2 separate regions of the Homo sapiens genome follow, and region 1 is linked to region 2. The links come from fine-mapping of genetic effects on gene expression. A gene starts in region 2. The other region holds a variant in brackets. All regions are shown on one strand. Distances are from middle to middle.

Region 1 (4,375 bases), 39 kb before region 2:
ATTCTTCAAGTTTCACCCCCACCACATCCTGTTGAGGGTGGAGGGAAGTGAGTATTTCCTGGCCTTGTTAGCTGCTGTCCTCCTGCACCCTTAAAATATGTAAAAATACTTATCCTGCCTCAAAGACTGCAAGAGTGACATTCCACACCGACTGTAAGTGCACAGTCCCCGGATGTCTCTTGTCATCACCCTCAATGAGAGGAAGAGGGAAAGTTCTGCAGCCTGCCTTGGCCCTAGTGAGACTCTTAACCAGACCAGAGGTGGGAGGTCACCACCTCACTTTCTGATCTACACTTCCTAGAGGAAGGACAGGTGGGGAATGGGGCTTCCTACTCCCTTGGGCCCATGGGAGGCCCAACTTCACATCCATCCAGGAAACCCACCAAAGCTATTACTCTAAGCCCAGATCCGACCCAGTCGGCACCAAACCACAGGAAGGATAAGAGTTCTAGGTGCAGAGGGAGGAACAGAGAGAGGCCAAGCCAATGGCTGATACTCCGCAGACCCTGTAATAACACTGGCACCAAACCCCAGCTGGAGCCAGTGGCCATGGCAAATGCAACTTCTGAGTATTTTGTCTTCATTTTTTGCAAGCAGCATCAGTGCATGATGCAACAAAAGTTGAAAGCACGGAGGTAGAAATGCTCACTCACCCAAGAAAGGGTGCAGTTTGGTCCTTAGAGAATGGATCCCCTCCTCTCCCTGAGCTGAGAAGAGAGGAGCAGTATTGAGGAAGATCCTGGGTGAGATTCTCCCTTCAAGGGGAGTACCTGGGCAGCTCCCAGGGGCCCAGCTCTTCCTGGGAATTCATGGTCACAAATCCAGGCAGAAAAGAGGAGGGTGGTGATAAGTATGGTGTAGGGGGCAGGGCCTCCCCAGATCTCCTACCCATTGCAAAGGGCCACAGGGTGGACACGAGAAAACAACACTACACACACAGAGACATACACTTTGTATCTATCACCTGGAAGAAATCCAAGAGACACATCAGTGGAAAGTGGGTTCTGGGTCAATTTCAAGGCATGGGACAATGGCCACTAACCACAGCCTAAAAGAGGCTGGCACTTCTAAGCAAGGGAGAAGGTCCAAGGCCCAGCACCCCTCTCCTCCTAATGGATGGGAATTAGAGTGGAGGTGGGCAAAGCAAGAAGCAGAGGTACCAGCCCCTTGGAGGTCAGGATTGGGGTAGGATAGGAGAAGAGAGGAGAGGGTAAGTGCACCTACCTCCCTCACCGTTAACTGCTGGTCTCCCTCCAAGCCGTCCTCACCCCAGGGTGCAGAAGAACACCCTGGCCCTTAGCCCTGAAAAGGGTTACCTCTTCCAAATAGACCCTGATCAAATCTAGGTGACAGAAGGTAGAAGACAAGGGGGTTGGGGACTCTCAACCCAAAAACAAGGACCCGTGCCCTTCACCCTCAATTCTGAGAGGCCACAGCCAGGGTGTTGACATAGCCATGAGCACCCCCCTCGTTCTCCGAGATGCAGTGGCCCAGCTGGGAGCCTCCCTGAGGTGGTGGCGGAGGTGGTGGAGGGGCGGAGGGCGGAGCACCGTAGCCCCCTCTGGCCCGACTCGGGGAGGCCCGATTGCCCCGGTCCCAGCAGCCCTCCAGGGCCTCCAGGCCCCGGCAGCCGAGGAAGAAGAGGTTCTTGAGCATGAAGATGGAGAGGGGCTGCTGGTAGCTGACCACCAGGAGGCAGCGCAGCGCCAGCAAGGGCACGTCCACCAGGCAGCCGCCCAGCAGGCGCAGAAGGCGGCTGCAGCTGCCAGGCCCGGAGGCCTGGCCCCAGGATGCAGCCGCTGCGGCC[G/A]CGGCGTTGAGCTCGTAGAGCCAGAGCACCGGCGAGGCGAGGGTGAGGAAGTAGACGGCGATAAGCAGGTAGCGCAGGTGCGCGGGCAGCGGCACGCGGCCCTCCAGCATCAGCTCCACCAGCGTGAAGCTGTCGAGCAGGTCCAAGCACGTGCCCAGGAAGCATCCGGCCGCGCGGTGCCGCTGGGGCTGCAGCAGCAGGGGTCCTGCCGATCCCGGGGGCGCGCCCGCCTCGCTGATGGCCCGCACCAAGCTGTAGAGCAGGGGCACCGACAGCGCCATGGTGAGACGGAAGCCCGTGGTGCCGAAGGGCGCGCGTAGCTCGATGAGGTCTAGGATGGACGTGCCCAGGATCAGCACCACCTTGGGAGTGAAGGCGATGGAGTAGATAAGCCAGGCCAGGTAGGCGAAGGCGAACTCGCCCGCTGCCGCGGCCGCCCCCAGGCCGCCCCCCGCGCCGCCGGCGCCCCCGCGGGCTCCGCGTGCCTTGGCCCCAGCGGTAGCGGCCGAGGGGGCGGGCAGATGCAGGGGCGGCGCGGCGTGGTGGTGGTGCAGGTGGTGGTTGTGCGCGCCGCTGGCTGCGCCGCCCCGACGGCCCCGGCTGTTCTTGGCGAAGAAGATGGCCCAGCCCACCACCACCACCAGGTCAGTGGCGATCCAGGAGCACCAGTACAGGTCGGTGACGGCGATGAGGTACAGGTCCAGCAGGCCGCCCTGCGCCAGCAGCAGCACCACGGACAGCGCCTGGTAGCCCCAGCGGCACCTGGGACTGGGGGCGCAGCCGCGGCGCCGACCTCTGCGGCCGGGGCGGTCTGGGCAGCCGCAGCAGCAGCAACACGGGCAGCAGGAGGCGCCGCTGCCGGTCCCGGTGCCGCCCGCGCCCCCCGCCGAGCGGCTCCCGGGGCCCCCGACGGCCCCGGCCGCGGCGCCCCCGCCGAAGTCCGCGGCTGTCATGCTGCAGGAGGAGGTGGGCGTGGAGGTGGAGGAGGAGGTGGCCGCTGAGGAGGAGAAGGCGACAGGCGCGGGGCCGGCGGGGGCGCCCACCTGAGCCGGCGGCCCCAGGAGCGCGGCGTTGGGCACCAGCGGCTTGCTGACGCTGAGGCTCTCGTCGTCGTCCTCGCGCTCGGCGCCCGTGCTGCTGCTCGGGGAGCCGCCGCCCCCGCCGCGTCTGCCGCCGCCTCCCCCGCGGCTGGTGCTGGTGCTGGTGCTGCTGTCGCCGGAGCCTCTCCGGCCGCGGAAGGAGCCCCCGCGGAGGAAGAGGGGCTGCAGCCGGGCGGCTGCCGGGGGCGGCGGGAAGGAACCGGACGCGGAGGAGACCGAGCGAGGGTGGCCGAGCGCCGGGCGCATTGTCCTCCGAGGGGCTCTGGGGCCGCCCAGCTGTTCCCTCCCCGCCAACCCCGGGCGGGCGAGGCGGGCTAGGCGGCCGAGGGGAGCCGGGGCCCGCCGCCTCCCCAGCAGTGGGGACTCGCACCTGGGCCGGGCGGCGGCGAGATCCGGACTGGAGCCACTGGACTGGGCGAGCCGGGCCGGGCGGCAGGGAGAGGGGGCAGGCGGTGAACCGAGCGGACCGCGGTGAAGACAGGCGAGGCGGGGGCGGGGCGGGGCGGGGCGGGGAGCGAGTCCCGCCGGGAGGGAGGGAGGCTGGCGGCGGGGAAACCAGGACTGGATTCGAGGGGGAGAGGAAGCAGCGAGACCAGAGGAGGAGAAAGCGCGGCGCGCTGGATCAACGGGAAGAGAAGGGGCGGGGGTGCAGTGCGTCACAGTCGGGTCGGGAGCCCTGTGGCCTGGAGGAAGCGGGAGGAGGCGCGGGCAGCCGCCAGGGCGAGGCGACCCGGTGCGGGGGGACTCCCATGGAGCGCGGACTCCTAAGGAAGTCGCTGGGAATCCCACCGGCTGTACCGCAGGGCGTTAGTACCTAGATGGCTTCGGTGCCCCCAAGCGATGGGCTCAAGCTACAGGGCGGGCTTTGCACCTGGCCTTCTCAGCTCTGAGGCAGGCAGTGGGCAGCTTCGCCTCCACCCTCCGTCCAGCGCCCTTCCCATGGGGCCATCCGCCTCTCCCTAAGGCACTAAAAACCAGTGGAGGAGTCAGGCCATGTTGGCAAAAAGGGCTCGGGCAGCAGCCCCAGACCTATAGTCCTAAATATCCATGTACCCAGCCCTGGGGTCGCGAGCCATCTCAGGGACGACCCGATTCCAGCGGATGGAGAAGTTCCCTGAAAACACCTGCCTGGGAGGAGAGACGAGGGAACGAGATTGGGCAAGTGGCATCCGCCCAGCGGGCTTCTCAAAGGTTTTTAAAGCAGAATGGGACGTAATAGGAAGATGTGTCTAGCAGAGAGTAAAATAAAGGGGCATTTAGAGGTGTGGGCACCTGGATGAAAACAAAGGCTCCAAAGGGATGATGGTGAGGGTTACAGCCCACCACAGTAGACAGAGACACCAAGGAAGGAATGCAGTCAGTGGCCCTGCGTAGACAGTCTCAGGAGAGAGCACACCAGCTCACCCCAGGACTCATCCAAGGCTGGGGATGGATGTCGATGCAGCAACTCTGGAAGGCAGAAGGTAGA
Region 2 (4,375 bases):
AGGAGTTCGAGACCAGCCTGGCCAACACAGTGAAACCCCGTCTCTACTAAAAATACAAAAATTAGCTGGGCGTGGTGGCAGGCGCCTGTAATCCCACGTACTTGGGAGGCTGAGGCAGGCGAATCACTTGAACCTGGGAGGCAGAGGTTGCAGTGGACCGAGATGGCGCCACTGCACTCCAGCCCGGGCAACAGAGCTAGACACCGTCTCACACACATACACACACACACACACACACACACACACAAAAGAAAAAAGCTATGGAACAATGATATAAATGAAGATATATTTAGTACAGCTGTACAATGTGTTGTGTTTTAAACTAAGTGCTATTACAAAAGAGTAAAAAATTTTAAAAATTAAAAACTTGGTAAAGCAAGAAAGTTAAACTAAGGTTAATTTTCTTTTTTTTTTTTTTTGATAAGAGTCAGGATCTGTTGCCCGGGCTGGAGTGCAATGGCCCGATCTCCGCTCACCGCAACCTCCCTCCCAGGTTCAAGGGCTTCTCCTGCCTCAGCCTCCCGAGTAGCTGGGATTACAAGTAATAGATCCATTACATAGATGGGGAAACTGAGCTTGGAAAGCTATGTAAATTGCCTTAAGTGAAGCCGCTAACAGACTGCACAGGATTCAATTCTAAAGCTCGTGCTCAAACTCTGTCATCCTGCATTCTTCTTTTTCTGCTCTACCGGAAGAGTCACTTGGAGACATTTCGGGACTCTGCAGAGATGCTAGAGCCAATACAACAGTTATAAATAAGGGCGATATTTCCTTATATTTATATCCTGACAGTTTGTAAGTCCTTTTATCAACATATTCTAATTTCAAACTTCCACCTTGGTCACGTCTAGCTATGTGACACTGGCCAAGTCACTCAGCTGCTTTGAACCTTAGCTGCTCCATATTTAAAAATCATAAAAATAATACAGCTGTTAAGAGCTTAGACTCTGGCACCAGACTACCTGAGTTCCAGATTCTGCCACTTACCAGCTGTGTGCCCTTGGGTAAGCTGCTTAACCTCTCTGTGCCTCTGCTCCATCTATAAAATGGGAAGACTAATAATAGTACTTTCCTCGGAGTTGTTATAAAGATTATACGAATAACTGTGAAGTACTTAGAATAGTGCCTGGCACAAAGTAAGCACTATGTGTTTTTTTCATGCAAGTAATTTGGCCGGGTGCACTGGCTCATGCCTGTAATCTCACCACTCTGGGAGGCCAAGATGTGAGGATCATCTGAGGTCAAAAGTTCGAGACCAGCCTGGCCAACATGGTGAAACCCTGTCTCTACTAAAAATACAAAAATTAGCCGGATGTGGTGGCGGGTGCCTGTAATCCCAGCTACTCGGGAGGCTGAGACAGAAGAATCGCTTGAACCCGGGAGGCGGAGGTTGCAGTGAGCAGAGATTGCGCCACTGCACTCCAACCTGGTGACAGAGATGCCGTCTAAAAAAAAAAAATGCAAGGATTACTGTGAAATCCGTATGTTAATGTAAAATATTACTTGTGCGTTTAGAAGACAAAGTGATTCCTTTTTCCAGAAAAGGCAAAACGGCCCAAGGGAGCGTGAGAGCCGTGGATCTGACCAACCTGGTTTAGTGTCCTGTGCCGTCTCCCAGCTGCAGGACCTGAGAAAACGTACTTGAAAACTCGTCAAGCTTCGGCTTCCTGACCACACAAGGTCACACCTTCTCAGAAGTTGCGGGGAGGCTCACACATCACTACCGCGCCGGGCACACAGCAGGCGCCGGCTCCAGCCCTCCTGCTCCCGCCCGCGGAGCCTCCAGCGCTCAGTCGAGGTCACAGCGAGCTGAACTGAACCCAAGGCCCGCACCAAACCCACAGGCACTTGGGGGCGGAGCACCCGCAGGCGCGGCTCCCGGCGCGCGGCCCAGTTTCCTCCACATGCAGATGAAAATCACGACCCAAACGTCCTCATGGTGGAAATCAGAAGACGCGCAGGGAAAACAGGGACGCGGAAACTGCCGGGAAGCGCAGGGGCTGACAAGCAGCCTGGCCCAGGCCGTCCCACGAGCGCTCTCCCGCGGGAGTAGCGTTTCCGAGGCCGCCAGCGAGTCAGAGGAAGGCAGGGCGCATCCGCCCTCCAGCAAGAACGCGATGCACTCGGGCGCGACGACGGTCCAGGCAGTTCCCAGGAGGCTGGGATACCAGCCCGGCCGCCCCTCCTTCCCCGCGGCTCCCCGCCCCGCCTCCGGCCCTGAGTGGCGAGTGGCTCGGCCAGAACCCGGACGTCCTCACCTGAGCGGGGCCCACAGCATAGCACCTGCGGGCGGGGCGGCCCTGGAGCCCCGCAGCCGCGCGCGCCGCCCGCCAGCAAAGCCCACGCGCCGCGCCGAGCGCAGCCACACAGCCCCACGCAGCCATCCGGCCGTCGCCGTGCGCACGTGCACGGCGTGCGGCCCCCCCCCCCCGCGAGTCCGTCCGCTGCACAGCCAATCAGCGGTCGGCGCGCGCGGCATCACGGGAGTTGTAGTCCTGTAAGCGCGCGGAGCCCGTCGGGCGCCTATGGAACTCGACCCGCAGGCCAAAGGGGCTCCGTTGCAAGGAAGAAGTGCGGGGTCCCGCCGCCTCCTAGACCGAGATCGCGGTGAGCTGGCCGCGGCGCACAATGGGCACGGCCTGGGCGGCGGCGTCCGTACTATCGCCCTGTGCCTGCGGATCCCGGTAACATTGCGCGGCAGGCCCCAGGCCGGCCTCCCTCAGCTTCGCGGACTGTCTGGGCCGGGGGTCTCAACCTTGACTTCAGGGCCGGGCCGCTGGGGCAGACCCTTAGTGATGTTCAGGTCCTCTGGGCCCCTGCCAGTCAAGGGACGCTCGTCGCGCGCCAATTGTTAAGTCTTTCATTGTTTCTGTAAACCTGCTGACGCCCTCCCAGCGCATAGGGAGACTGCGCACGTGAGTCCGCCCCCGCGCGCACTGCGGAGAGGTAGAGGCACGAATGTAGTACAAGGTACAAAATGACTACTCCAGAGAGGGCCAGATGACTAAGTCAGCAAACACTTAGGGAACACGACTGTGTCCGCTGCGCGTTTCCCGGAGTAGACACAAGGGTGAATGAACAAAGAATGGATTTCGGTCACTGAAAGTGGAGAGGTAGCCGACTCCGTCCGTGGAGGCCCTTAGCAGAGCTGGATCTGGTAGTCCCCCGGTCATGAGGGGAGATTCTGCTGGAGGAAAGAGGTCTCCATTCCCACCGTTTGAAATGTGTAGGATGCCCTCAGATTCTTTGGCCCATTCATAGGTATAGCTATGCTAAAAACGCGGGACCCTACAATGTACTTAGCACTAGCAGAGAGGGAGTCGAGGATATGGACAGAGACTGCACTAGCTCACACATTAGCAGGCCAGGGTGCGGTGGCTCACCCCTGTAATCCCAGAACTTTGGAAGGTCAAGGTGGGAGGAAAACTTGAGTCCAGGAGTTCCAGACCAGCCTGGGCAACATAGGGAGACCCCTTCTCTATTTTAAAAATAATAAAATAGGGCCGGGTGCGGTGGCTCACACCTGTAATCCCAGCACTTTGGGAGACTGAGGCGAGTGGATCAGGAGGTCAGGGGTTCAAGACCACCTAGCCAAGATGGTGAAACCCCGTCTCTGCTGAAAACTGCAAAAATTAGCCAGGCGCGGTGGCAGGCGCCTCAAGTCCCAGCTACTCGGGAGGCTGAGGCAGGAGAATCGCTTGAACCCAGGCAGCAGAAGTTGCAGTGAGCCGAGATTGCGCCAATGCACTCCAGCCTGGGTGACGGAGTGAGACTCCGTCTTGAAAAAAAAAAAAATAATAATAATAATAATAAAATGAAGAAGTAGTTAGCGGTGTCCTTTGGTCCTCAGCTTTGAAGGGCAAGATCTTAATTCAGTTCAACTACAGCTAATCAGAATTTGGAAGACTAATTCAAGTCAGTCAAACTCACAATAGCCCGACACTTAAACCCTGCCAGGGGACATAGCTCTCTAGGATTGCAATGTTCCTAATCCCTTCCTTCTATTAAACTACCTAGAAACTGATTTAGTCATTAGAAATTTCTTGGTATGATGGCTTTTAAACATGCCCACAGTTTTTTTTGACAATCGGCTCCTCAAAAGCATAGCCAGGCGCGGTGGCTCACACCTGTAATCCCAGCACTTTGGGAGGCCAAGTCAGGCGGATCATCTGAGATCAGGAGTTCAAGACCAGCCTGGCCAACATGGCGAAACCCGTCTCTACTAAAAATACAAAAATTAGCTCGTCATGCACCTGTAATCCCAGCTACTTGGGAAGCTGAGGCAGGAGAATCGCTTGAACCTGGGAGGTGGAGGTTGCAGTGAGCTGAGAGCGTGCCACTGTACTCGAGCCTGGGCAACAGAGTGAGACTCTAT

The links.
Region 1: its variant is fine-mapped to the expression of HDHD5 in whole blood (TOPMed, PIP above 0.99).

Annotation. Positions count from the first base shown.
Region 1 is chr22:17,117,975-17,122,349 of GRCh38, forward strand. TMEM121B (transmembrane protein 121B) reads right to left here and starts at 3,386. Exons shown (of 1, transcript NM_031890.4): 1 at 1-3,386. The coding sequence starts at 3,153. The coding sequence ends at 1,417. It overlaps LINC01664 (long intergenic non-protein coding RNA 1664), which reads left to right and starts at 3,621. Exons shown (of 4, transcript NR_103793.1): 1 at 3,621-4,065. RefSeq lists a silencer at 3,098-3,227 and an enhancer at 3,813-4,344. The variant G/A (reference allele first, on the strand shown) is at 1,808.
Region 2 is chr22:17,156,868-17,161,242 of GRCh38, forward strand. It overlaps HDHD5 (haloacid dehalogenase like hydrolase domain containing 5), which reads right to left and starts at 2,410. Exons shown (of 8, transcript NM_033070.3): 1 at 2,259-2,410. The coding sequence starts at 2,384. It overlaps HDHD5-AS1 (HDHD5 antisense RNA 1), which reads left to right and starts at 2,522. Exons shown (of 2, transcript NR_024483.1): 1 at 2,522-2,970. RefSeq lists a silencer at 2,092-2,421.